Homo sapiens: one gene and its partners. The protein of the gene in region 1 purifies or fractionates together with the protein of each later gene. This does not show direct contact. Each region holds a gene or a part of one and is shown on either strand. Other genes may lie near its edges. The genes, in order: ZZZ3, KAT2B, KANSL1, TADA2A, ZNF608, KAT8 and DR1.

The links.
Region 2: the proteins of ZZZ3 (region 1) and KAT2B purify together in Homo sapiens (affinity purification with mass spectrometry; 2 studies listed by BioGRID). This does not show direct contact.
Region 3: the proteins of ZZZ3 (region 1) and KANSL1 purify together in Homo sapiens (affinity purification with mass spectrometry, with the first as the bait; one large-scale study listed by BioGRID). This does not show direct contact.
Region 4: the proteins of ZZZ3 (region 1) and TADA2A purify together in Homo sapiens (affinity purification with mass spectrometry; 4 studies listed by BioGRID and IntAct, with this or other methods). This does not show direct contact.
Region 5: the proteins of ZZZ3 (region 1) and ZNF608 purify together in Homo sapiens (affinity purification with mass spectrometry, with the first as the bait; one large-scale study listed by BioGRID). This does not show direct contact.
Region 6: the proteins of ZZZ3 (region 1) and KAT8 purify together in Homo sapiens (affinity purification with mass spectrometry, with the first as the bait; one large-scale study listed by BioGRID). This does not show direct contact.
Region 7: the proteins of ZZZ3 (region 1) and DR1 purify together in Homo sapiens (affinity purification with mass spectrometry; 2 studies listed by BioGRID and IntAct, with this or other methods). This does not show direct contact.

The regions. Positions count from the first base shown.
Region 1 is NC_000001.11:77,574,659-77,578,158, forward strand, and holds part of ZZZ3 (ZZ-type zinc finger-containing protein 3), read right to left. Parts: intron 1,563-3,500; coding exon 1,410-1,562; intron 1-1,409.
Region 2 is NC_000003.12:20,120,446-20,123,945, reverse strand, and holds part of KAT2B (histone acetyltransferase KAT2B), read right to left. Parts: intron 1,279-3,500; coding exon 1,142-1,278; intron 1-1,141. UniProt on the Homo sapiens protein: Functions as a histone acetyltransferase (HAT) to promote transcriptional activation. Has significant histone acetyltransferase activity with core histones (H3 and H4), and also with nucleosome core particles.
Region 3 is NC_000017.11:46,036,430-46,039,929, forward strand, and holds part of KANSL1 (KAT8 regulatory NSL complex subunit 1), read right to left. Parts: intron 3,456-3,500; coding exon 3,273-3,455; intron 2,787-3,272; coding exon 2,598-2,786; intron 2,258-2,597; coding exon 2,109-2,257; intron 1-2,108. UniProt on the Homo sapiens protein: Non-catalytic component of the NSL histone acetyltransferase complex, a multiprotein complex that mediates histone H4 acetylation at 'Lys-5'- and 'Lys-8' (H4K5ac and H4K8ac) at transcription start sites and promotes transcription initiation.
Region 4 is NC_000017.11:37,437,886-37,441,385, forward strand, and holds part of TADA2A (transcriptional adapter 2-alpha), read left to right. Parts: exon of another isoform or gene 1-73; intron 74-2,619; coding exon 2,620-2,777; intron 2,778-3,500. UniProt on the Homo sapiens protein: Component of the ATAC complex, a complex with histone acetyltransferase activity on histones H3 and H4. Required for the function of some acidic activation domains, which activate transcription from a distant site. Binds double-stranded DNA.
Region 5 is NC_000005.10:124,645,640-124,649,139, forward strand, and holds part of ZNF608 (zinc finger protein 608), read right to left. Parts: intron 3,495-3,500; coding exon 1,040-3,494; intron 1-1,039. UniProt on the Homo sapiens protein: Transcription factor, which represses ZNF609 transcription.
Region 6 is NC_000016.10:31,127,664-31,131,859, reverse strand, and holds the end of KAT8 (histone acetyltransferase KAT8), read right to left. Parts: intron 3,811-4,196; coding exon 3,721-3,810; intron 1,844-3,720; coding exon 1,703-1,843; intron 1,594-1,702; coding exon 1,500-1,593; intron 1,405-1,499; coding exon 1,254-1,404; intron 1,115-1,253; coding exon 960-1,114; coding exon of another isoform or gene 868-959; exon of another isoform or gene 666-867; coding exon 601-665; 3' UTR 501-600; downstream 1-500.
Region 7 is NC_000001.11:93,355,907-93,359,406, forward strand, and holds part of DR1 (protein Dr1), read left to right. Parts: intron 1-3,500. UniProt on the Homo sapiens protein: The association of the DR1/DRAP1 heterodimer with TBP results in a functional repression of both activated and basal transcription of class II genes.

The DNA of each region.
Region 1 (3,500 bases):
GTATTAAGCTATTAAACACTATTAGAGTCTTATCAAAAGAACTTATAAGCCAACTTAAATAGGCTACAACAAACCAAAGATGGGCCACTTTGAACACTAACAAAGGCAGTAACATCAATGAATTGAAATACATTAAATACATTTAGGGCCAATAGTTCATAAGAATACAAAAAATTTTTAAACCTCATTGGTCATCTTTGAAGGATATGAGAAAATGAACTCATTATTTTAAAAACCAGAAAACAGGCCAGGCATGGTGGCTCACGCCTATAATCTCAGCACTTTGGGAGGCCGAGGCAGGCAGATCACGAGGTCAGGACATCGAGAATATCCTGGCCAACATAGTGAACCCCCGCCTCTACTGAAAATACAAAAACTAGCCGGGCATGGTGGCACATGCCTGTAGTCTCAGCTACTCAGGTGCCTGAGGCAGGAGAATCACTTGAACCTGGGAGGCAGAGGCTGCAGTGAGCCGAGATTGCACCACTGCACTCCTGCCTGGGCGACAGAGCGAGACTCTGCCTAAAAAAGAAAGAAAAAGAAAAAAAAGGGAGAATTGAGCAATTATCCCACCTTTTCTATATGTACCTCAGAGTAACCAAATAGTTGACTAGGGGGCAGGGGGATTACTTTTAGAATAGTCCAGCAAGTAAATGAAGAAATGATAGCATAATCACTATTCTGTAACATCTAATGAATTAATCAATTTAGTCAATGATCAGTGGCTGTTATGCCAAAAAAAGAGACAACCAGGCTGATGAAAGTAAACGTGAAGTAGTCCTGCCCACCCTAACAAACAAATACATCTGAATCTCATCAATGCTCTTGACCTACTATGAATTTACAGGAAGTTCAGAAAACAGAGGAACAGATTAAATGACAAGAAGATGTAATCAATAAAATCCATACTGCAAAATTCTATAAGACAAATGAACCAGTTCTTCAACAAAAACATTGGGAGAGGGAAAAAAGGAAAGTGAAAGAGGGAGAATGAACCTATTGTGATTTATGGGCTTTATTTGGATCCAAACCCAAATGAAGAAATTAGAAAAAAAATCATGAACAGTGACTATATATTTCACTGTATAACAAATTACCTTTTATAAACATGATAATTATATTGTGTAATATCTGGGACTTGCTCCAAAATAATCCAGAGCAGAGTTGAGGTGGGTAGGGAGTAGAGATTAAAATAAGGTAGCTTCATGTTGATAATTGTTAAGGTTCATTATACTATTCTATTTTTGTATATGTTTGAAATTTTCCTCACAAAAGTACATTACTTAAAAACTATACATTTGACTTGTTCATTAAAAGAAACCAACATTCTCTGAAGAGTGGAAATAATTAGAAAATCCTACTCTCTTCTATACCTTGATGTATATAACAACTTGATGTGTATAACTTACTGATGCATCTTCAACAGCAGTGTTCATGTGGCTATGAAAACAAGATCGGTCATCATCTTCATCCATATACACTGGCGGTTCATGTGAAGTCATGAAAGTGGAAGGCTTAAAGAGATGCTTATTAAGAGGGTGCTGTCGTCTGCTTGTTGAAGACTAAGTAAGAAAACAAATTTTTAATTGGTTCAGTGAAAAATCATTACAAGAATCAAAAATATAAAAATACAAATGTTACTTCCAACAAGTCTATCAGAAGAATTTCACTCTATCCTTTAGCATACTCTTATGTTGTTGCTTTTTCTGTTTTCTGCGTTTTTAAAGCATAACTAGCTTTAAAAAATTTTTTTTAAATGTAGGGGAAATACCCCAACAACGGTAAAATGGACCACATGTTTAATATCTAGCTTATATTTGTATCCCCAGCATTTATCATACTCTTGGCAGTCAAATGCTGGCTGCACTGAATTCTTATGATCATCTTATAGAAGATCAGACAGGATGAAGTGGCCTATGCCAGACATAAAACTATCCAGTAAAAAGTAAAAGGAAAATTTCTATAACATTATGAATATCTGAAAATACTTATCTAACATTGATTGACTGCTTATTCTATGCCAGGGTTGTCCAATCTTTGGCTTCCCCGGGCTACATTGGAAGAATTGTCTTGGGCCACACATAAAATACACTCACACTAAAAAAAAAAACAAAAAAACAACAAAAAAAAAATTTCTTGTAATGTTTTAAGAAAGTTTACCAATTTGTGTTGGGCCACATTCAAAGCTGTCGTGGGCCACATGTGGTACGTGGGTCATGGGTTGGACAAGCTTGCTCTATGCCAATGTCATTTAATCCTTACAACATTCCTATAACGTAGTTATCATCACCTCTAATTTAAAAATGAGAAAACTGAGGACAGGGAGGTTAAGTTTCTTGTTCAGTGTGTTGCAGCTAGATAGTGGTAGAACCAGGATTATAAACTAGGCCTATGTGGTGCCCAAATTCTCACTTTCCACCACTATGCAGCCTGCCTGTCTTGATCAATAGCACAGTCACAAAGAACACCCTCAGCTACATGAAGAACCATCATTTCACCTGTTTCCAAATTTAAACTCTAACAATGGCAAGCAATCATTGTAAATATAGCTGTACTAGATCTTCACAGCCAAAATACAGTACACCTAAGGGAAAAAAACACATGTACGTTCTCCAGTATTCCTTTTGTTATCATTATCCAGTGTTAATGATGAAAACATGGTTACATCTATAAAATTAGCTTAGAAATTAACCATGAAAATAAGAGCTCTTACATTAAACACAGGTTAATGTAAGGTTCCAATATTCCACAGTTATAGGATGAACTCTACAAATCTACACAGGTTGTGCTATATTTGGTGGGAAACCCAAAATATTTAAAACAATTGGCAAATTAAAACAAGCTTCCAAAGCTCGGTTAAAAAAAATTTTTTTTTAATGTGTAAAACATGAAACTGTATAGACAATATTCTTAATGTAAAATTACATGAAATAGCTTCAGTATGGAAGGATAACAGCACTAGATATACTCTTAGCTTCTCTTTATGAGAAAGATGTCAGTGGTGGGGAGGGAAAAGTAACAGGATAACTTATTAAGAAAATTTAAAACAGCCAATTAGGTGTCTTTATTTTTTGCGATTACAAGAACGAACAGCTGGGACTGCAGGTGCGTGCCACCACACCCGGCTAATTTTTGTATTCTTAGTAGAGACGGGGTTTCACCATATTGGCCAGGCTGGTCTTGAACTCCTGACCTCGTGATCCACCCGCCTCGGCCTCCCAAAGTGCTGGGATTACAGGCGTGAGCCACCGTGCCCGGCCGAAACTGGCTACATTTTAATGTAGTGTCCTGTTTGGGAAAGAAACAGTAGCTTCTCCACTGTAGAAAGCAACAGAGAAAAGTGGAAAAAGTGTGGCATCAGAATGGGAGAGAATCAGTGGTTCCCAGACTTAGCAGCTAAGCAACTAGATAATTCACTCAACATACCTGAGGGCCCAGTTTCCTTACCAAATAAAAGGTTATAGAACAGTAGAGTCTGGCTCAGAGCCCTCAATATAACA
Region 2 (3,500 bases), on another chromosome or scaffold:
GAAATGTCTTAAGACAGGTATGTCTTAAGAAATGTCATTGCCTTGCATGCCCTCAGATGCAAGGCAATGAGATGACAGCAGCATTTTTACCAAAAATGCCTTACTTGAATCTAATCCTTAGTAAACAATCAACAAATCCAAAAAGAGGGACCTTATACAAAACTAGCGACCAAGACTCTTCACCAATGGCAGTGCTGCAAAAGACCAAAACAAGGCTGGGGAGTTGTTTTAAAGGAGACTAAACAAATGAAGAGATAAGAATTAAATGCAATGCACAATCCCTAACTGATCCTTCAACAACAACAAAGGTTATAACTGACATCATCTGGCTATATGGGAAATTTAAATACGGTTTTATATTAGGCCAGAGGTCAGCAAACTTTTCAGTGAAAAGCCAGATAATAAATATTTCATACTTTGCAAGCCACACATTCCCTGTCTCAATTATTCAAATTTACTGTTGTAATGCAAAGACAGCTGCAAACAATATGTTTCAATAAAACTTTATTTGAAAAAAACAGCCAGTGGAGCAGATTTGGCTTGCAGGCTGTAATTCACCAACCCTGTATTAGAAAATATTGTAACCAGGCTAAATTTTCTAAGAGTAATGACTGCATTGTGGTTATGTAAGAGAATAGCTTCCTTATGAGATACAGTACATGCAAAAATAGTTAGGGGTGAAGTATTATGACATGTGTTTTTAATTCTGAAATGGTTCCAAATGGTTCATGGGGAGTGGGGAGAGAAAGAAAAAGAGCATATGGGGAGGCGCAGAGAGAAAGAGAGGTAGCAAATGTGGCATAATGTTAACTGCTGAATCTCAGTAAAGAGTCTATGGATTTTTATTACAGAATTTCTGCAACATTTATGAGGGCTTGAAATTTTTCAAGATAAAAAGCTGGGAATGATGCCTTCAACTGTGAGATTATTAGTAAGTGGACCTGTGATGTGATATTCATCAAGGGGAATTACCTCTTGATCAGTTGTTCCTGCCCTCTCCACACTGACCACCAGGTTAAATGCAAACCAGGGTAGCATAACATGTTAACTCTCAGCATTAGCATCCCCACTTCTGACAGCTGGAGTGGCCAGGAGAGCAGAAGAGGTCTACCAGCTGGCTGCCCAGGTTTACCCTGCTGACCTCTGGTCCAAGCATTGCTGCAGGGTCCGTGATGGTAGACATAACCTCGTTGATTAATTCCATCGGAATATCCCCCATAACTCGGGGTTTCTTGGCCTCCTCCAGAACATGAGAATCAGTCATTTTCCTCTTTTCTCCTATGATGATCAAAATAAAAGGCAAACAATGGGTGGTTCTAAACACAAAACAAATAATACACGCCAACTAATTTTCTAACAGCATTGATGGGCATGGAGGTCAACTCTATCTTTACCACCAGGGGAAGGGGTGACAAAGGAAGACAGGAAAGAGAGCCATTGTGAGCTCACAATAACTGCCAACCCAATTCATTGTGAATATTTTCTACTTTCTATGATGATTTTTAACTAGATACATGAAATATTAAGGCACATGTTCCTTCATCTGCAAATGCAAAGGGGTGATTCTAGCTATTGTTTGTTAGTACTCTCTAATATAGTCTCTTCAAGGTCAGAGAACATGGTCCATATGACACCAAAACGTCAAAATGGATTGAAATTTTTACCTTATGACCTAAAATAAGACCAATCTTTTGTAAATGTGCAGTGTCTTCTTGGAAAGAATGTGTATTTTCATATTTTGATCTCTATAACTCCATTAGCTTCAGCTTACAGATCATGTTGTATGGATATCAGTAAGAGCCTTACTGATATTTTTGTCTGTTTGACCTATGAATTACTCAGTTGTTTGTTTAAAGCCTCAACCGTTGGTTGATTTGATTATTTCTCCTTGTAGTCATGTTAATTCCACCCCGCCCCCACCGGCACCCCACCATATATGTACGGAAATCAGTTTGCATTAGGCTTTGGGCTTTATTGGTTAGTTATTGCTATGTAATAAACCAACCCCAAATGAGTCTTAAACCATAATAACTTACTATCATAGCTCATTCATTTCGTATGTTTCCTGATGGGTGGCTGATTTCAGCTCATCTCATTCAATCTTGGCAGGCTTGTTCATGAGTCTACCCACTGATTGGAATCTCTGTGCTGGGCTTGGCTATACACACACACACACACACACACACACACACACACACACACACACACACACATATGCATATGTGTATGTATGCATATATATTATGTATATATAGCTATATATTTGAAATATACCATAAATTATTTTTAATAAACAAATTTATGGATTTAATTTTCTATTATAAAATGACACACTTTATCTTTTACAATGCTTTTTTGCCCTAAAATGATGCCTCACAAAGTGAGCAGGACCACTAGCCTATCAAGTAGATGCAATCTCACCATTCCACACAATAGGAGAGCCATGCAAAGGCAGAGAGAACTTTCTTCCGCTTTCCTCATGAGATTGCATGGTAGTTTTTTTCTCCTTTCTATTCTCATGTTTGGTTTTTCCAGTTTTTTCCAGACATAACATGTATTTATTTTTACAAGTAAATTTTTTGAATTTTTAAGATGTCTAGATCTAATTTATTTCCTCACATGTGAATCCCACTGCTATCTCAATATAACATTCTCCACATAGCATTCTCACTATCTCTAGTTGAAAAGGAGCAGAACAGTATAAAGTAACTTGACTGTAGACGATTCTTCCAGAAGTATTACATATTATTTACTAAATCACTTTTGTCGAGTTCTTTTTTTTACAATTTTTTGTTGTTTGTTTTTGGAGACAAGTAACAATATTTTCAGACATCTGACCAATAAGTCCTCAAATTCCATGATTCCCTAAGAGTAATGCTGAAAACTATTTATTTCGTAGCTGGGGTTTGTACTTGATATGCCCTCTGCTTGTTAGACTGCTAATGGTGTTTATGATTTTTTTTAAAAAGTCTGAGGCTGAATCCAAGCTCACTGGTAAAGAGTTTCTGCATGAATTAGTGATATCTCCCTTGGAAGTGAAAGGGAATGGTGGCATATGCTAAATATATGGCACTTCTTATATTATAAGGTCCTCTTCTTTCCCTCTTTCATGGTACTTCTTTTATTTAAAAATTTGGTCACATCCAAGATTTGTCTGACGTCAAGTCTGTGGACAGAAATGCAACCTTCAAAACATTCTCTAACTGTGAAATGCTTCTAGGCTCAAGAGATATTTTTGCCCATGTGGTAGATTACATTAATGGCCAAATTCTTTACCCTCCTGGTATCTACACTCTTTGCTATGTGACTTTGCAGTTATTCCTACGAAAGGAATAGACTACCTTTTTCCACTTCTCCACCTCTCAACTCTGAGTTCAACTACGTGACTTGCTTTGGACGACAGAATGAGGCAGAAGTCAGCAGGGTATGGTGGCTCACACCTATAATCCCAGCACTTTGGGAGGCCGAGACAGGTAGATTACCTGAGGTCAGGAGTTTGA
Region 3 (3,500 bases), on another chromosome or scaffold:
AAAATTGTGTCTGTACTGAAAAGGTACAGATTTTTCTTTTCATTATTCTCTAAACAATACAGCATACTATTTTTATAGCATTTACATTGCATTAGGTATTATCAGTAATCTGGAGATGATTTAAAGTATATGGGATTTAAAGCATACACATAGGTTATATGCAAATACTATGCCATTTTATATTAGGGACATGAGCAACAATAGCTTTTGCTATCTATGGGAGGTCCTGGAACCAATCCCCACTGCAGATACTGCAGATACTGAGAGCCTGCTGTTATCTGGCCTATCTTCTTTCTTTTTTTTTTTTTGAGACGAAGTCTTGCTGCGACGCCCAGGCTTGAGTGCAATGGCTTGATCTCCGCTCACTGGAACCTCCGCTTCCCAGTTCAAGTGATTCTCCTGCCTCAGAGTAGCTGGAACTATAGGCACATGCCACCACGCCCAGTTAATTTTTGTATTTTTAGTAGGGATAGGGTTTCACCTTATTGGCCAGGATGGTCTCGAACTCCTGACCTCAAGTGATCCACCCGCCTCAGCCGCCTCCCCAAGTGCTGGGATTATAGGTGAGCGCCACTGTGCCTGGCCTATCTTCTTTTACATAAATCCAGAGTCTTTGAAAAAACTTGGCAATGAGAGAGCCTCAGGGGTTAGCATAGTGCTATACACAAAATTTTTACTCAATAAATGGTAAAAATTTCAAGTGATCCAGGCCTAAGTTAACATTCTCCAGACACAGAAATATTGAAGTGCTCACCAAGTCCTGAATCTCTGAGTTCAGATTTTCTATCAGAATTAGTTTAGACTCTTTTTTATAAATACTTTGGTTATCTGAAACCCTTTGCTGCTGGATAACTGAGTATGTGAGGGACACTACACACCTATTTAGATAAAATTTGTGGGTTACGGGGGTAAAGAAAGTCGAAGAGCAAAGAGACCATTTGGAAAAGATTGATTTGTAACAGCAAAGAGAGAACAATGTGAATTCCTACCTGATCACAGGAGCCTAGTGAGTCCATTTTATGAGCTTGGAAGTTTCCTGATCTAGGCTCTGAAGGAACTTCCTAAGTTGCCTCTGCAATACCCTCACCCAGGCTTAGCCTGTGTAGTGTAATGGTAAAAGAGCTGGCTCTACAGTCAGGCTGCCTGAGTTTGAATCATAATTATAACCCTCACAAGTTGCCTTGACAGTTTTCATGCATATAAAATGAAATCCACAGTACCAACCTACATCTCAAAAGGCATTATAACATGTAACACATGTAAATCACTGATCACTGGTATGTAGTAAGTGTTCAATAAACATTACAGTTGCAGACTTTTACATTTACCATTACATTACATTGTAATTATTATACAAAAAGGACCCTTTGAGTAGGTCCATAGCAGCTACAGGTATGTATGTTCCAAGAGGGCACACTTGAGGAATTAAAATATTAGAATGAAATTAAAGGAAATGTGTCTGGAATAGCTGTGCAAACTGCTTCCAGATGGAGTGTGGTATCGTAAAATCTGGTGTGTGCATGCCAAATGTCCTGCCATGGGGGCCTGCTGGATCTGTAATTCTGCTCTGTATACCTAAAAAGCATGGACTCTGCCTTCTCCCTTCCCTTCTCTTCTGGTACCCTCACGCCTAGTGTTTATTCTTAGTACTTCACCTCCACTCACCCAGAGAGTAAAACCAAGGAAATCAAACACTGCTTCCAACGCCCATGGGAATCTCCCCTCTACCCACCCCTCCTCTCTTGTTCACTTCTTGGGCCAACAGGATTAGGGCCACGGAACTGTTGAGTCCTGTGTGAAACTTAGTCCAACAGATCTTGAATAGTCACAGATCACCTTAAGAGTTTGTCCCTGCATCAAGCTTTCTATGGATGGCTCAGCATAAATCCATCTCTGCTATGAAAAACAACTCAAGAAAAACAACAGAAGGTCAAGTACCATGACTTTGACTTAAAAATGGTACAGACATACATACATATGTCATGATGAGCTGAGATCCTATAAATGCCCTGGGCTTTATAACCCACCCTCACACTGTCCTCTGGAGCCACTTGAGTGAGCTGTGACCTGCAGAGGGGGTGTCCGGCCAACCCCACACAGGTACTTACCGATGTGCTGGCTGTAACCTGTGAGCTAGAGCTGGCGGGTGCAGGGGAATCTGAGGAGGTGGAGAGCTGTCGCACCAAGGGACTGTGTGGAGGATGGTGGGTGGCTGCCAAGTAGCTCGAACTGCTCATGTCTGTGTGATGCTTCAACACTGCAGAAGTCAACAGAAAAGAGAGAAATACATGGCTATCTTAACCAGCGTTACTTCTAACACAAGCTTGGAATGGCAGCAATACATACTAAAGGCAAAAATGTTTTCTATGCCTAGAGGATAAAAAGGTGAAGCACACTAGCTGTGGGAAGTAGGGGCAGGGCAGAGGTTGCTGTAGCAGTTAAGAAGTGACCTCCATTTAGAAGCAGTAGCGTCCCTCTACTCTGCTTTCCTAGAAAGTGAAGGACAAAGCTGGGGGTAATTAAGAGAAGCCTAGGCTGCCCCAGAAAGCCCTGAGCAGGTGCAGTTGCAGGTAGAGGTGCCATGGGCCTGGCCCTACCTTCACTTCTCTCAGATGAATGGTCTCGCAATCTCATTTTGCTGTGGTTTGGGTCATGCACGGGTGGTGGTGGGTTGAGCAAGCGCTCTGCTTTTGGCGCTGTCACTCGCTCCACCATGGGCACGGCCCCCACATCGTCTAAGTGCTGCCTGTGGGTCCTGTCAGGCCGGGTTTGGTGATGGGACAGCTCTGAAGAGGGGAACAGAAAAAGAGCTGTGAAATATGTCCTCTCAAATATTTTCTTATTCGAGTTCCAAGCTCTCGAGTTCTCTCTAGGCCAACGCCGTATACCCAGGGCAGCAGGACAGTCCTTCAGGACTGAAGTTTCTAGTAATTTGCACAATGGCTAGGATAGGCACAGGGAGCCCAGAACCAGAGAAACATGTCACCAGGATACAGAAGACACCTGCCCGTAGATGAACTCAATGCCATGCCATTGCTGGCTGTTCACTGAGCATTTTGGGTCTTGCTCCAAGATCCATGGTGTCTAGAATAGCTCCCGAAGTCCATCTGAGAGCATCCAAGACAAGCAGAAGCAGTCACTGTGAGCTGAATTTTTTATCGGTCAACTGCCTCTCCCAACCCCAACATGCATGCAAACTACAAATTTGAGAATATAAAAGGAATGAAAAGTCACTGATACTCTGGGGGACTTCCCGGCTCCCTGACACTTACTGGCTGTTGTTAGGAAGGAGCTGACCAATTTGTGCCTGTCCTTACGAGCTGAATCTGGCAGACTGCCCGGCATGGGTGCTCTGTGCTTAAGCGATAACTTTTTGGGAGGTTTGATTTTGTCAAAAGGCTTGTTCTGCCACTGAGATTTCAGCATGCTCTGGAAATGCAGGCTTGTGGGAACATCTGCAAGAAACATAAAATGCTACAGGTTAGTCCAAACACCTGGCC
Region 4 (3,500 bases), on another chromosome or scaffold:
TGTTGAAGAGTAAAGGAAGGAACCTCAGGAAGAGAAAGTATGTGTTGCTTTCCTATCAACCCATGATTTAGAGGCAAGTTAGTCCCCTCTGTACATTATTTTTCCAGTGTCGAAATGTGTCACGAGGATATGGGATGTTTAGCGGTCCATGACTGAGCAGCTTTAAAAGGCCACTTTGGATGTATCAACAGTGGGAAGATTGATTATTATTCCTTTCTGAATAGTAGGGAAGTTTAGTTTCGTTAGTTATTACTCCCTTCTGATTTTATGAATTTTTGTTAGTTGTAGATGCCCTAGTCATTTAAGTGAATCAGACTTTAGCTAGATGGTCATACGTAAGATTCAAGTTTCACAGACTTCCTGATAGCATTCTCTGTTTTTAGCTTTCAAACACCTACCTGCCTTAGTCCAAAACCGGCGGAATTGAATAGCACTTATTGCTGTTGACCTAGGGGGCAGCACCACTTAATACTACCACTTTCGTTTTTATCTTTTGGGAACACTTTCATATGGATGCTTTTATTTTATGAACTAGATAGCAGAGGCATTATTGAATATATTTTGTTCACAAATTATCTGAAGCCTAGGGGGTTGAAATGATTTCTTGTGATTACATAGCTTATTACTGAAGGACTCTTAATTAGGTCCTCCCTGTCCTGACTTACTAGTGTATATAACCTTTCTTGGTGTTCATCAGAATAAACTCTGCTGCCTGCCTCCCTTATGTCCAGGGACCTGAAGAAGGAGACCTGAATTTAGTTCACATTTTGCTTGTATTCATTCATTCAGTATTTATTAAGCATCATAAAATACTGTGTACAATGAGAAATACCAAAGGAGGTAGAAAAGTAATCACTTGTGAGGAGTTTGCTAGTCATCTTTGGCCTAGTTTTTCATTTTTTGCTTACCATTCTCTCTAAAATAGTCTAAACCTCTCTGTCCTCCTTCCCTCTTAACAAAGAACATAAAAAAGACATAGCTTCTCTATCCGCTGTGGGTAAGGCACTAAGTTTGGCAGTGAGTGGGCTAGAGCTAAGAATTATGAGATGCATCCTGTCTTCAGAAAGCTTATAGTTTAGCAGGGGACTTAAAAATACAAGTGATTGAAGTACACAAAACAGCACAGTGATGCCTTAGGGGAGGTCAAGTGAAATGCTGTGAAAAAGAGACCTTGAGGAAAGGACTTCCACCTGTACCTCTCCATTACCTTGGCTCAAGTCAGGGATTTTTTTTTATTGAGACAGTCTCACTTTATCACCCAGGCTGAAATGCAGTGGTGTGATCACAGTCACTATAACCCCGAACTCCTGGGCTCAAGGGATCTTCCCTCCTCAGACTCCCAAGTAGTTGGAACAACAGGTGTGCGCCACCATACTCAGCTAATTTTTAAATTTTATTATTATTATTATTATTTGGAAACAGGATCTTGCTCTGTCGCCCAGGGTGGAGTACAGGGGCATGAGCTTGACTCATTTCAGCTTCAACCTTCCAGGCTCAAGTGATCCTCCCAGCTCAGGCTCCCGAGTAGCTGGGACTACCGGCGTGTGCAACCACCCCTGGCTAATCTTTGTATTTTTTGTTGAGATAGGATTTTACTGTGTTGCCCAGGCTGGTCTCGAACTCCTGAGTTCAAGCCATCCTCCCACCTTGGCCTCCCAAAGTGCTGGAATAACAGATGTGCCCCACCATGCCTGGCCAGATTCTTAAGCAAGTTTCTTAATTATTTTGGGCCTCATTTTTCCTTCTTTGAAATTGAGATAGTAACAATATCCATACCACAAATTTGATACTAGGTTTAACTTAAATTCTGTTGTGAATGTTTCTAGCTCAGTGTCTGGCATCTCATAGCAGCTCTAGTAAAGAAATGTTTATGTTAAGTGTTTGGTAAACCGTAAAATATTAGGCAAAATAAAACTATATTTCTGTATATTTTGAATGTTCTGAAGTCACTTCTTATTATTTACAGCAATTATTTCTGTAGGGCCTAGCTCACAGGAAAATTTACAAATTTTCCAGTCATCTTTATTTATTTATTTATTTATTTATTTATTTATTTATTATTTTTTTTTTTTTTTGAGATGGAGTTTCGCTCTTGTTGCCCAGACTGGAGTGCAATGGCGTGATCTCTGCTCACTGCAACCTTTGCCTCCTGGGTTCAAGCAATTCTCCTGCCTCAGCCTCCCAAGTAGCTGGGATTACAGGCATGCATGCACCACCACGCCTGGCTAATTTTGTATTTTTAGTAGAGACAGGGTTTCTCCATGTTGATCAGGCTGGTCTCTAACTCCCAACCTCAGGTGATCCACCTACCTCCCAAAGTGCTGGGATTACAGGTGTGAGCCACTGCGCCTGGCCTCAGTCATCTTTCTTTAAGTGGAAAAGAAAGGACTTTTTAGTCATTATTTCTGTGTTTTAGACTAGCAAGATATGGAACACCAGATTACACCAATCTAGGCTTATATTTATGTCATTTTTCTGCTGATATCTTTTTGATATCAATTTGGAAATATGAGAGTATATTATATGGATGTGACTTAAAATATGAAAAGAGCAAATGATGCTTTTAGTATTATGTGTAAATACAAGTACCACTTCTCTCTTTTTCCCACAATCCTCTAGGCAGGATGTAGCCAATCAAATGTGCACCAAGACCAAGGAGGAGTGTGAGAAGCACTATATGAAGCATTTCATCAATAACCCTCTGTTTGCATCTACCCTGCTGAACCTGAAACAAGCAGAGGAAGCAAAAACTGCTGACACAGCCATTCCATTTCACTGTAAGTGCCTCCCTATCTTGATAAGATATACTTAGCTCATCCTTGGGCCCTGTTTCAGTAGCAGATAAAGAGTGATTTGATGACTTGGACAGCTAATGATATCACGGAAGATAGGAGGAGTTAGTATGGCAGCTATTGAGAGTCAGGATCGACCCAGCATGGTGGCTTGTGCCTGTAATCCCAGCACCTTGGGAGGCTGAGGCGGGTAAATCACTTGAGGCCAGGAGTTCAAGACCAGCCTGGCCAACATGGCGAAACCCTGTCTCAACTAAAAGTATAAAGATTAGCTGGACGTGGTGGCAGACACCTGTAATCCCAGCTACTGGGGAGGCCAAGGCAGGAGAATCACTTGAACCGGGTAGGCGGAGATTGCAGTGAGCCAAGATCACATCACTGCACTCCAACCTGGGTGACAGAGTGAGACTTCATCTCTTAAAAAAAAAAAAAAAAAGAGTCAGGATTATAATGTGGCAAAGAAGGAACATACTCTAAGGGTCAGAGTTCTATACAGGACATCAAGGTGCTTGAAGCCAATGTGTAGTTCCACCTACCTTGAGTCCTTTGAACATATCAGTTAACTTAGTGCTTTCCTTTGTAAAATAAGATGTCAAAAAGGGAAAACCTTTTCTATGCTATTATGAGTGCAAGTTTTTTTTCAATCCCTTTGGAGAGCTTATGATTATACATATGAGTTGCTTAGAGAATACAGTATTTGACTCATTA
Region 5 (3,500 bases), on another chromosome or scaffold:
AGGATGTCTGAACCATGACAGAAGGTGCTAGTACATTTGTGGTTTCGTGGTGACCAATTTTCAGGTGTTCTCAAGCTGACTGACCCATGGGGCTCTGGGACAGCTGTTGAGGCCTGCCACCCAAACCTCCTCACCCTCCTCACAAACATTCAGCACTGAGCTCTGAGTTTTGGGGTACTTAATATAGGGAGTAAGACTGAAATCTAGGCATCTCTGACCCCATGTGAAAGAAATTTGGGCCCCAAATTCTATTAAAAAGATTAATGGGAAATGTGAATTCAGGGACCCAGTTTTTATTATCTTCAAAGAAGATGCTAGTAGAAATTTGAAAATGGAAAATAAATATTTCAGAGATAAGACTCAGAATCTCAGAGTTAGAAGAGAATTCAGCAGCCCCATTGTGGAAAGCCCTCGCCTTGGACTAAGAAATTAAGGGATCCTGGCCAGGCGCGGTGGCTCACGCCTGTAATCCCAGCACTTTGGGAGGCCAGGGTGGGCGGATCATGAGGTCAGGAGATCGAGACCATCTCGCTAACACGGTGAAACCCCATCTCTACTAAAAATACAAAAAATTAGCCGGGCATGGTGGCACGTGCCTGTAGTCCCAGCTACTCAGGAGGCTGACGCAGGAGAATCGCTTGAACGGAGGCGGAGGTTGCAGAGAGCCAAGATTGCACCACTGCACTCCAGCCTGGGTGACAGAGAGAGATTCCGTCTCAAAAAATTTAAAAAATTTAAAAAAAGAAATTAATGGACCTCATCAGAGTCACAGAGCAAGTTAGTGGCATGAAACACAAATCTGCAAAGCACCCATCCACAGTTCCTTTTACTATACACCATGACAAGAAAATACTGATAATGTACATTTTAGAGCTACATAGTAACTCCTGAGAATCTTAAGATATTTTTCAAGAGCAGAGGAAAAAACTAATATGGGTTTCTTTCCTGTGTCAGAAGTCTAACCAGATCAAGCCCAGACATGTATAATACAAGTCTCAGACTGCTCTCTCCCTGTTGGGGCCACGCTCCACAATCTTACTTGTTTAAATCTCGAGGTTGGGTCTACACCTGTCTGCTTCATAGAGTCCATGACAGACTTCATTTCTACAGCCTCCTTAATAAGCTGGTGGTTTTCCATCTGCTTAGCTTTGAAGCTGTCGGCCTGAAGCTGCTGCTGGTGATTGGAGAGAAGCTGCGATTTACCTGTCTCCTCAGTTTTATTAGGCACTGATGGCCCTAGTTTAGAATGGTTTTTGTTAGGCTCCGGAGTAGAGGGAGCTTTTGAGATTGTGGCCGATGGCATATTTTTCTGTTTAGTTTCCTCCTTGCCCAGCTCTTTCAAGGGGAGCTCACTTTTCCTTTCACAGTCTCCTCTCCCAGTCTGGGCCATTTTCTGCTCTGCCAGCCTCTGGTCCTCATAGTACTTCTCATACTGCTGTCTATAGGCAGGGCTGGTGGCCATCAGAGACTTCTGGTCCATATAGAGCCCATATGCATACTGGCCATAATAAAGTGACTGAGCCAGGGCAGGATGTCTTTGTGTGATCACCGACTGGTGCTGAGGCTGTAAGGATGCAGAATTGTGGTCCACTTTCTTAGAATCTAACTGCTCTGCCTTGTCTTTCTTTTCAGCATCTTCCTCAGACTCCTTCTTGATCTTCATTCCCTGCGTGCTCCCACTATTTCCAGCTGCAGGGGCACCGACCTGCCCAGGGTGCATGTAACTTGGAGAATAATAAGGATCATAGCTGTGGTAATAGGGAGAATGGGACTCTTTCAGTTGAGATGATTGTGCTGTAGTTGAAGAATGCCCTTTTACAACACTGTCCTTACTAGAAATAATATCTGATGGGGAACTGGCCTTTGATCTCATACCCTCCGACCTGCTGTCAGAACCACCATCGTCAGCAGCATCAGATATGTCTGAATAGGCCGGGCTGCTTGTCTTTGCAGCTGAACTCTCTGCCCCATTCTGGGTCAACACATGCAGAGGTGCCATTGGTGCCTGCCCGTTCACCAAAGTGCTGCATTCCAGCCTCGAGGCGCTCCCTATGGAAGGGCTGGGAGCGTTGTCTGTGAAAGTGTAAACCTTATCGGCCTCAGCTTTGATACTGGCCATGCGGCTCTCCTGAGACTCCGACAGTCCATTTGCCAGCCCTTCATTCTTGTTGAGATGATCCTTTAAAAAATGCCCAGGTAAATCTTTGCTGGCCCCCTTGGAGTCCTCTAGTTTCCCCAGCTTGGCATCCATTTTTGGGCTTCCCGTCTCTTTCCCTTCTTTGTCCTTTAGCTTTCGCTTCTCCTTTTTCTTTTTGTCTTTGAGTGACACCAGAGCTGGGTTCACGGTGATGGGCTCTCCCATAATTGTGGGCTTTGGTTGAATGGGTTTTAACGGAGGACTCTTTGGTGTAGCCTGAACAACAGTTGTTGTGAGGGAGGGCAGTCCGGGTATTGTCCCAGTGGTGGTCGTTGTAAAGGTTGCAGTGGGTATAGCGATTAGCTGCGGGGGAGTGGGGGCTGGGGCAGGGGCAATGGGCCGGGCACTTTTCAGTTTAGAGAGGTTTTTGTCCGTTTTGCAGTTGGTAGCTTTTTTGCCCTTTTCTTTATCTCCTAAATTTTTCTTGTCAATTAATCCTTCTGCTTCCAGTTTAGGCATCTCAGCAGCCAAACTGCCGTCTGCTGCCGAGCAACTGTCTAACGCAGCCGTCATGTTGGAGATTACTGGAAGGTTGTTCAGTTCATTGTTAAGGCCCTTCTTTTTGCCAGAATTCTTCCCAGCTTTAGCACCAATAATGGAACCTGGGCCATTGCTCATCAGCTCTCTCTTTCCCTTTGGGGTCCCAGGTGGGTTTCCAGCACCAGGGGATGCCGGTGCCTTCAACTGGTCATAAGCAGATACACTTGTGCTTGGCTCACTGCATTCAAGTGCCACATTACTCAATCCTTCCTCACAGTCCGAGATCTTGTCCTCACTGTCAGGCTCGAACTCCAGCTTGTTTTCTGGGTCTAAGTGTGCATGAGCCTGGTGGTACCTCAGGCCGTTAATGTGCTTGTACTTTTTGTTGCAGTTTGGGTGGGGACAGTCGATTAACACTGGAGAAGAGCAGCCTTGGTCCAAAAAAGTAGTCTCTGGTTTCCCTTGAGGGGTAGTGGGAGTGCTTCTGGAATTTGTGCGGACACGCTTTCCAGGCTTATTGTCCTCAGAGCTGGAGTTCAGGTCCAGCTCCATTGGAGGCTTGTTTTTCCTTTTGTTGGTGGAGGAAGGGCTGGCTTTGATATCCTCAGCAGCACAATTTGGGGGTGTCCTTCGTCCGCTGGCATTGAGGCTGCCCCGCCTCCCTTTCCCATTGGCCCCCCCTCTGTTCTTATTCTGCAGCCCTCTGGACTCTGTGAAGCTGGCCTCGGAGCCCGGGGCAGCAGCAGCAGACCTCGCTCTCTTCCCTCTGCCCCGGCCCCCTCTCATCTCCAGGTCACTTGTCGGTGACTCACAAAACCTATGG
Region 6 (4,196 bases), on another chromosome or scaffold:
ATTCTTCTGGGTGTGCTTTTTGGGACCATCACTGAGAGTCAGGAGTTTTACTGCCTGTAGCAATGGCCAGAGCCTCTGGCCCCTCACCCACCATGGACCAGCCCATTGGCCGAGCTCCTGGGGAGCTCCTGGGACCCTTGGCTATGAAAATGAGCCCTGGCTCCCACCTGTTTCTGGAAGACTGCTCCCGGCCCGCCTGCCCAGACTGATGAGCACATCTCTCTGCCCTCTCCCTGTGTTCTGGGCTGGGGCCACCTTTGTGCAGCTTCGAGGACAGGAAAGGCCCCAATCTTGCCCACTGGCCGCTGAGCGCCCCCGAGCCCTGACTCCTGGACTCCGGAGGACTGAGCCCCCACCGGAACTGGGCTGGCGCTTGGATCTGGGGTGGGAGTAACAGGGCAGAAATGATTAAAATGTTTGAGCACAACTTGCCGTGCATGTGTGAAGTGAAATGAAGAACATCCGCTCTTGGCCTCCCCTTCCCCTCCAAAGTCCAGGGCCACCAGAACTGACTTTATTAAAAAAATGACAAAACAGGTCTATACATATTTACAGGCTGGGAGCCAGGAGGCTCAGGTCCGACAGCAGGGGCCAGGCTGCTCACTTCTTGGAGAGCTTGACTTGCTTGTGCTTGGGGGGTGCCCACTTGAGGCAGACGGAGTCCACTGTGGGGAGAAGGGGCGGGAGGCAGGGCTGGGCCTGGGCCAGGCCAGCTCACACCTGGCTGCCCTCCTCTGGGCTCAGGCCAGTTTCACCTCCTCCAGGTGAGAACAAAAGGGCAGGCTGTGCTGGGGAGGGGTAGGGAAGCCCAGGAATGAGAGGCCTGCCCCGGGCTCCATCCTGGGAGCTGGTCTGACTGGTTTGGGATCATGTGACAGCAATAAGGAGGCCTTGACTCCTACCAGTCCATATACTGACACTCCCCCACCGCCCCCGACACACAGCAGCCCCCCACCCACCTGTGATGGGTGGTTTCTTATACTGGGCACTTTTGAGGTGCTCCTCCACCAGCTTGGGTGTGACACAGATCACGTGCTGGCCCTTCCAGTACTTGACCATATTGAGGGATTGCAGGGTACTGATGATGTCATTTTGGGTGATACTGGTCATCTGGCTGCAAAAAGGGATGAGAGCAAATGCCAGACCTGGTGCCCTTGTGGGATCTGGCCAGGATGGTGACAGGGTATGAGGAAGCAGGATCGTGGCCCATCTCAGGGCAAGTCCTGCCCCCAGGGCCCGGGAGGCCCCCTCACCTGAGGTCCTTGATGGACAGTGTGCCCCGGAAGTCCCGCAGGATCTCTAGCAGCACCCAGGACCAGTAGCTGCGGTAGCTGAGCTTGCCCAGGTCAGACAGTGGCTTCTCCGGGGAGCCGACTGTGCTCTCCAGCTTGGAGAGCTCATAACCTGGCAGCAGTAGAAAGAGGAACTTAGGATCCAGCCTGCCCTGGCACCCCTGCCCCACAGGTCTCCCCCTCCCAGACAGGCCAGGAACCACTCACTGAAAGCGATGAGGAACTTCCCGTAGCCGCGGCGTTGGTAGGGGGGCAAGGTCAGGATGCAGGCCACATTGTTTCCATCCGGGGACTCCTTCTCCTGCAGGAGGCAGGTGCTCAGGGCCGCTGGGGAGGCTCTGCCCCACTCTCTGTTCATGCCCACCTTCGCCCTCCCCACCCTCCCCACCCCGAGTTTCCAGACCCAGCACCTTGGAGAAGTAGCCAACAATGTGGGCCCCCTGCCGGTCCACCTCAGTCAGGATGTAAAAGACGAACGGCTCCACGTCAAAGTACAGTGTCTTATGGTCCAGGAAAAGCTTGGCCAGCAGACACAGGTTCTGACAGTAAATCTAGGGTTGAGGAGGGGGGAGACAGGCTCAGGGGGCAGGCACAGGCCCCACCCAGCTGGTTCCAGCGGCCGGCACCAGCCCACGCGAAGTGGGCGCCTCGCCAGGCCAGAAGGATTTCACACTGGAAGGAGTCTTCGGTCAGCCTCTGACGAACAGGGAACTGGAAATGAGAGAGCAACAGCACTTCGGAGGTGCCAGTGGAGCTGGATGAAGCCCGGCCACCCCTTCTGAGTGCCAAATACGAGCTGGGTGCCTTCCATGCAGGATCTGCTTCAGTCTTCACAGACATTAACTCTGTTTCAGCTCGTGAAACTGAGGCTCCGAGGCAGGAATTTAGACCGTCCTGTTCATGGCTGTGTCCCCAGCGCCTAGCACGAGTCTAAGTATGAAGCTGGGTGCCTGGTAAACGTCTGCTGAATGGAGGAACCTCGAGCCCTGTCTGTCCACTTGGCTGCACTCCAGGAGGGGGACAATGGGACCGAGTTTGGCTTCACGGCACACACTAAGGGGCTCCCTGGTTTATGACACCACAGCCACTCTCTCATCCAACCCGGCAGCTGTGCGAGCCCAGCACTGCCAGGCCCATCTTACTCAGGAGGAAGCTGAAGCTCCCAGAGTGGAAGTGCTTGCCCAGAGCCTCAAAGCTGGCAGAGCGCAGTTGGAAAGCACCCCCACATCTCCAGCGGGGGCCCTTCTGCTATTCCACACAGCCATGCTCAGGAAGGCAGAGCAGGGGCAAGGGCTGGGCTCAGCCTGCGTATTCTCCGAGTCCAAGGCTAATCAAGCCCCAAGAGGTCACCGATAATAACAAGGCCCGTGTTTATTAAGCACATACTAGTGCTAAGCACTGCACTAAACACTTGACATTTGCTGTCTCATTTATTCCACTAACAACACAACTAGGTAAATATTAAATATTATGACTCCCGTCTTATGGACAAGGAAACAGGAACAAACCATGTTAAGTAACTTGTCTGTGGTCAGTGAGGAAGTGACAAGGCAACATGAGCCACCCTGAAGCCTGCCCTCTCTGTCCTGTGCTGTATGGCCCATCTGCGGGAAACCAGTACACTTGGCCAGACCCTCCCAGACTGATAAGGCAAAGGCCAAGTTCTCTACAACAGCTAGGCAGGTCCCAAAGGCCCCAACCTGCCCTGCTGAAGTCATTCGGGGCCAGGAACAAGGAACTCAAACCTTGAAAGCCACAGAGCTCTCTCAGGAGGAAATTTCACACAAAGCAGTCCCCTCCCAGGCAAAAACAAACACCTTTCTTTCCAACGGAAGGAGAGAGCACTTCTAAAAGCAGCCTCAGGCAAGAAAATCTCCTCTGGGTTCCAGAACAACCCAAGTTTGAACCTAACCCCACCAGCAGAAGAGTCTTGGGGCCACCACAAGGCCCTGTGTTTCCTATGCACCAACTACAGGCCTAGTGCCAGGCTAGGAGGCCCTCAGAGGCCTTCTTTTTTTTTTTTGAGACAGATTCTCAATCTGACGACCAGGCTGGAGTACAGTGGCACAATCTCAGCTCACTGCAACCTCTGCCTCCCAGGTTCAAGCAATTCTTGTGCCTCAGCCTCCCGAGTAGCTGGGATTACAGGTGCGCACCACCACGCCAGCTAATTTTTTGTATTTTTAGTCGAGGAGTTTCGTCATGTTACCCAGGCTGCTCTCAAACTCCTGAGCTCAGGCAATCTGCCCACCTCAGCCTCCAAAAGTGCTAGGATTACAGGTGTGAGCTGCAGTGCCCGGCCCCTCAGAGGCATTCTGCCCATAGAGGCTCAGCTAAGGCTGCCCCCTCCCCTTTGGTGGTGATGAGGATCATCTGGGAGGTGCCCAGGGCCTCCCCGGCCTCTCCCAACCCCTGGCCACCCACTCACCTTATGGTCTTTGCCATCAACTTCGTACACGGAGATGTTGCTCTTGCGGTAGATCTCTTTCCCGGGGGGCTGCCGCCACTGGCACTGACCCTGGTCGGGGACAAGAGAACAGGTTCGCTGCCCATATGTTCTCTGCTAGGAGGCACCCAACCCACCACTGCATGCTTTGGAGCAAGTCTCTGCCTCTCTGTTTCCCCCCTCAACACTTCACCTACATCGAGTAATCCTCCCAGCAGCCTTAGGAAAGTGATCCTGCTTTTACAGACCAAGGCCCAGGCACAGAGATCCAAACATCACACAGCACGGTGGGGTTTTGAGTCTCTGTGGGCCTGGCTCTGGAGGGACCCGTCCATGACAATGGCTTCCCTAAACCACACCTATTCGCTTCAGATTCCACACTTCGGGAAGCAGCCCACTGTGTCAGTGATGAGAGCGCCCCTTCCTGACAGCCCCCAATTTCATCCACACTTAAGGTC
Region 7 (3,500 bases), about 16 Mb from region 1:
ACAATGACAGCCTCATTTGAAGCTAGCAGCAAATATTTGGAAGGAGGGAACCTTTAATACATCAAGATTAAAGTTAACTTTAAATTATAAATGAGTCATTTTAATATGTGGGAGTGAGAATCTTAAAACATAATGAAAACCTCCAAAAGAAAAGTGAATTAGGAAATACATGCCTGCTTACCTGTCTTTCACACCCCAATTTTAGAAGAAAAATACTTGGGATGGATTGAGTAGGGGGCAAGAGAGAAAAAAATATATTACAGTAAATATCACTGAAAAATGTTCAATTTGTGGAAATGAATACAAATAAAATTTTATCAATCAACTTTTTTTTTTTTTTAAAGAGACAGGATCTCACCATGTTGCCCAGGCTGGAGCACAGTGGCTATTGACAGGCTCGATCAGGCACACTTCAGCCTAGAACTCCTGGGCTCAAGGGATCCTCCTGCTTCAGCCTCATGAGTAGCTGGGACTATAGATGTGCACTAGTGAGCCCAGCTCAACAGTTAGTTTTAAAGGCATAGAAATGTTTTTATGTTCAGAGAAAAGTATCAGCGCTGATACAGGGCCGTGGTAGCTAAAAGTCAATTAAATTTGAAATGTAACTAGTACACAGCTTTGCAGACCATTGAATAGACTACCAAATCAAGCACCTTTGCAGTAAAACCTTTGTAGAGACTTGAAATTATTTGAATTTTTTCCATGTCACAAAATTATACCAACTTGTAGTTGATTAGACCACAAAATATAGGTATGCTTATGTTGGTTGAATTTATGTATTTGATTTGCCCTGCAATTTTCTTATGAACTCTTACAATTTTTTTTTTTTTTTTGAGATGGAGTCTTGCTCTGTTGCCCAGGCTGGAGTGCAGTGGTGCTATCTCGGCTCATTGCAACCTCCGCCTCCCGGGTTCAAGCGATTCTCCTGCCTCAGCTTCCCAAGTAGCTGGGATTACAGGCATGCACCACCATGCCTGGCTAATTTTTGTATTTTTAGTAGAAACAGGGTTGCATCCTGCTGGCCAGGCTAGTCTCAAACTCCCAACCTCAGGCGATCCGCCCACCTTGGCCTCCCACAGTGCTGGGATTACAGGCATGAGCCACCGCGCCCGGCCTTAAAATGTTTTTAGCGAAGCTCTGTTAGTTGGTTTTGAACTCTGGATATTCCTGCCGTAAAAGTAAATATGCTATTGTGTTAGAATCAACTATTTTTCCTATTTCTTTACAAAAATGGATGACAGTCATTATTAGGGAGAATGGATGGTTTCTAATTTCCTAAGCAAAATGAAGTTTTTGTTTACTGTAAAAGTTGTCTTATCCTTGTTTTTTCTAATATCTATAGTCTTTTCCTTACTTATTTCTTCCTCTTTGCCTTTAACCATATACGGGTCTTCTGCATTTCCTTGTATCCCCCAAACCCTTTCATCTTTTGCTATAATGATCTGTGTTACCCACCAAGCAAGGTGGCACCTTCCTGTAGTCCCAGTTACTCGGGAGATGGAGGCAGGACAATCCCTTGAGGCTAGGAGTTCAAGGTTGCAGTGCATAACAACTATGCCTGTAAATAGCCACTGCACTTTAGTCTGGACAACATAGCAAGACCCCATCTCTAAAATAAATAAATAAATAAATAAATAATGATCAGTGCTACCATTTTTTGAAAATGTACAATCACTTATTCCTCAAATTTAACTTCTGTCCTACCACAGAGGCATTTAATCACCAAATTCAGTAATTTTTTTTCCTTTCAATTCTTACTCATCTGTTTTTTTAAAAATAACATTTAATGTAGACCTCTTCCTTTATTAGTCTCTGATACTATGGTTACTTGGATAGCTTTCCCCCAAGGTAATAGCTTTTCTTCTTCCACTTCACTACTGCCACCTACACCAGCACCACCCTACTCCTGCCCTTCAGTCAACAAATTTCAAGTCAGAATTCAATTAACATGTCCCTACTGTATGTAAGACATATGTGGTACTATAGATATAAAAAAAAATGAAGAATATATCATTATGAGACTGACTACTTGGATGAGGAAGATAACTATAATATGAGGCTGACCACTTATGAGAAAGAGATTCTGGCTGGGCATAGTGGCTCACACCTGTAATCATAGCACTTTAGGAGGCCCAGGTGGGAGAATCACTTGAGCCCAGGAGTTTGAGACCAACCTGGGCAATATAGTGAGACCCTCTCTCTACAAAAATAGAAAGAAAGAGGGAAGAAGGAAAGAGAAAGAAATCCCAAGTATGGAAACATTACATCAAATTTTAGGGGTACAGGAGTATGCCAACTAGTAAGCAATTATCTTAGCTCCAGACCCACCTTTCTATGCTCTGCTTTGTGACTGGACCTAGTACTCTGCAAGCCACATGTTTCTTTGCTAGCTGACTCTCCATTAGACTCTGTTGCCATATGGGGCTATCGTGGGAGATTGCATGGATGGAGGAAGAGAAAGGGTTTTCTCTTACTTTCTCTTGTCTTTCAGTTCCTTTGAACAACCCAGCAACACTTCTTCACCCTGGTTGCATCAGTTTTCCTGTAGCAGAGACTGAACGCGGTTTGCATTTTCTCTAATACACCACCAGCCTGAACCCGCACCCCATCCCCCCACTCTGGCAGTGTGGATCCCAACCCTTGGGGCCCTCCTCCAAGCGCAGATATATTAGTACTAGCTTATCTATGCCCATTCTTCCGAGGCCTGAGTTTCAGTTCCATGAAGTGGTTTCTTAAGCTTCTAAATTTTAAAAATTCCAGCATTTTCCTTTATTCCCTCAGTTTTAGGGTTGGTGGCTGCTTCCTGTAGCTGCTACTTTCATGACATCTTCATGTTCTCTTCCTGCCTTTTCAGCTCCCTAATAACAACTTTATACTTGTTTAACAATTCTTCGTATTAAATTTTTTCCATTCCAGTAACTCATGTGACATCTATCTCTTGATTATACACTGACTGATGCCAGGAGGAGAAAATAGTATTTCAGTTTGACTTGAAGGAAGGGTAGAATTTCAGTAAGTGGCAGGAAATTTCACATAGGATGAGTGTCAGCATGAGTAAAGGTAGCAAAGATGAGGAAGTATGGTGTATATTTGGGAAACATTTTGTGTTCTAGGCTTTTTTGAAGCACAAAGTACATGTTACAAAAAAAGACTATAGAGAGGTTGGGGTAGACACTAATTTGGAAGACCTTGAACTCTAGGCTAGGAAATTTGGATTTGATTGATAACAAATGATTTTTTTTAAAAAAATGAAATAGTGACCTGATTAGAATTTATATCTAGAAATGTTTGGATAATAAAGTCATGACAGATTATTCAGAAGAGTGAGGATTGTACATGGTAAAATCTTAAATGTTACTGGTTATGCTGGGCATCACTGTTTTCCTGTAGCATGTTCATTCAGAAAATACTGAGGGCCTTTATGTTAGGAATGCAACAAAGAATATGGAAACAATCTCTATTCTCAAGTGTGGTGGAAAAAAAGGATATAAACTTAGATA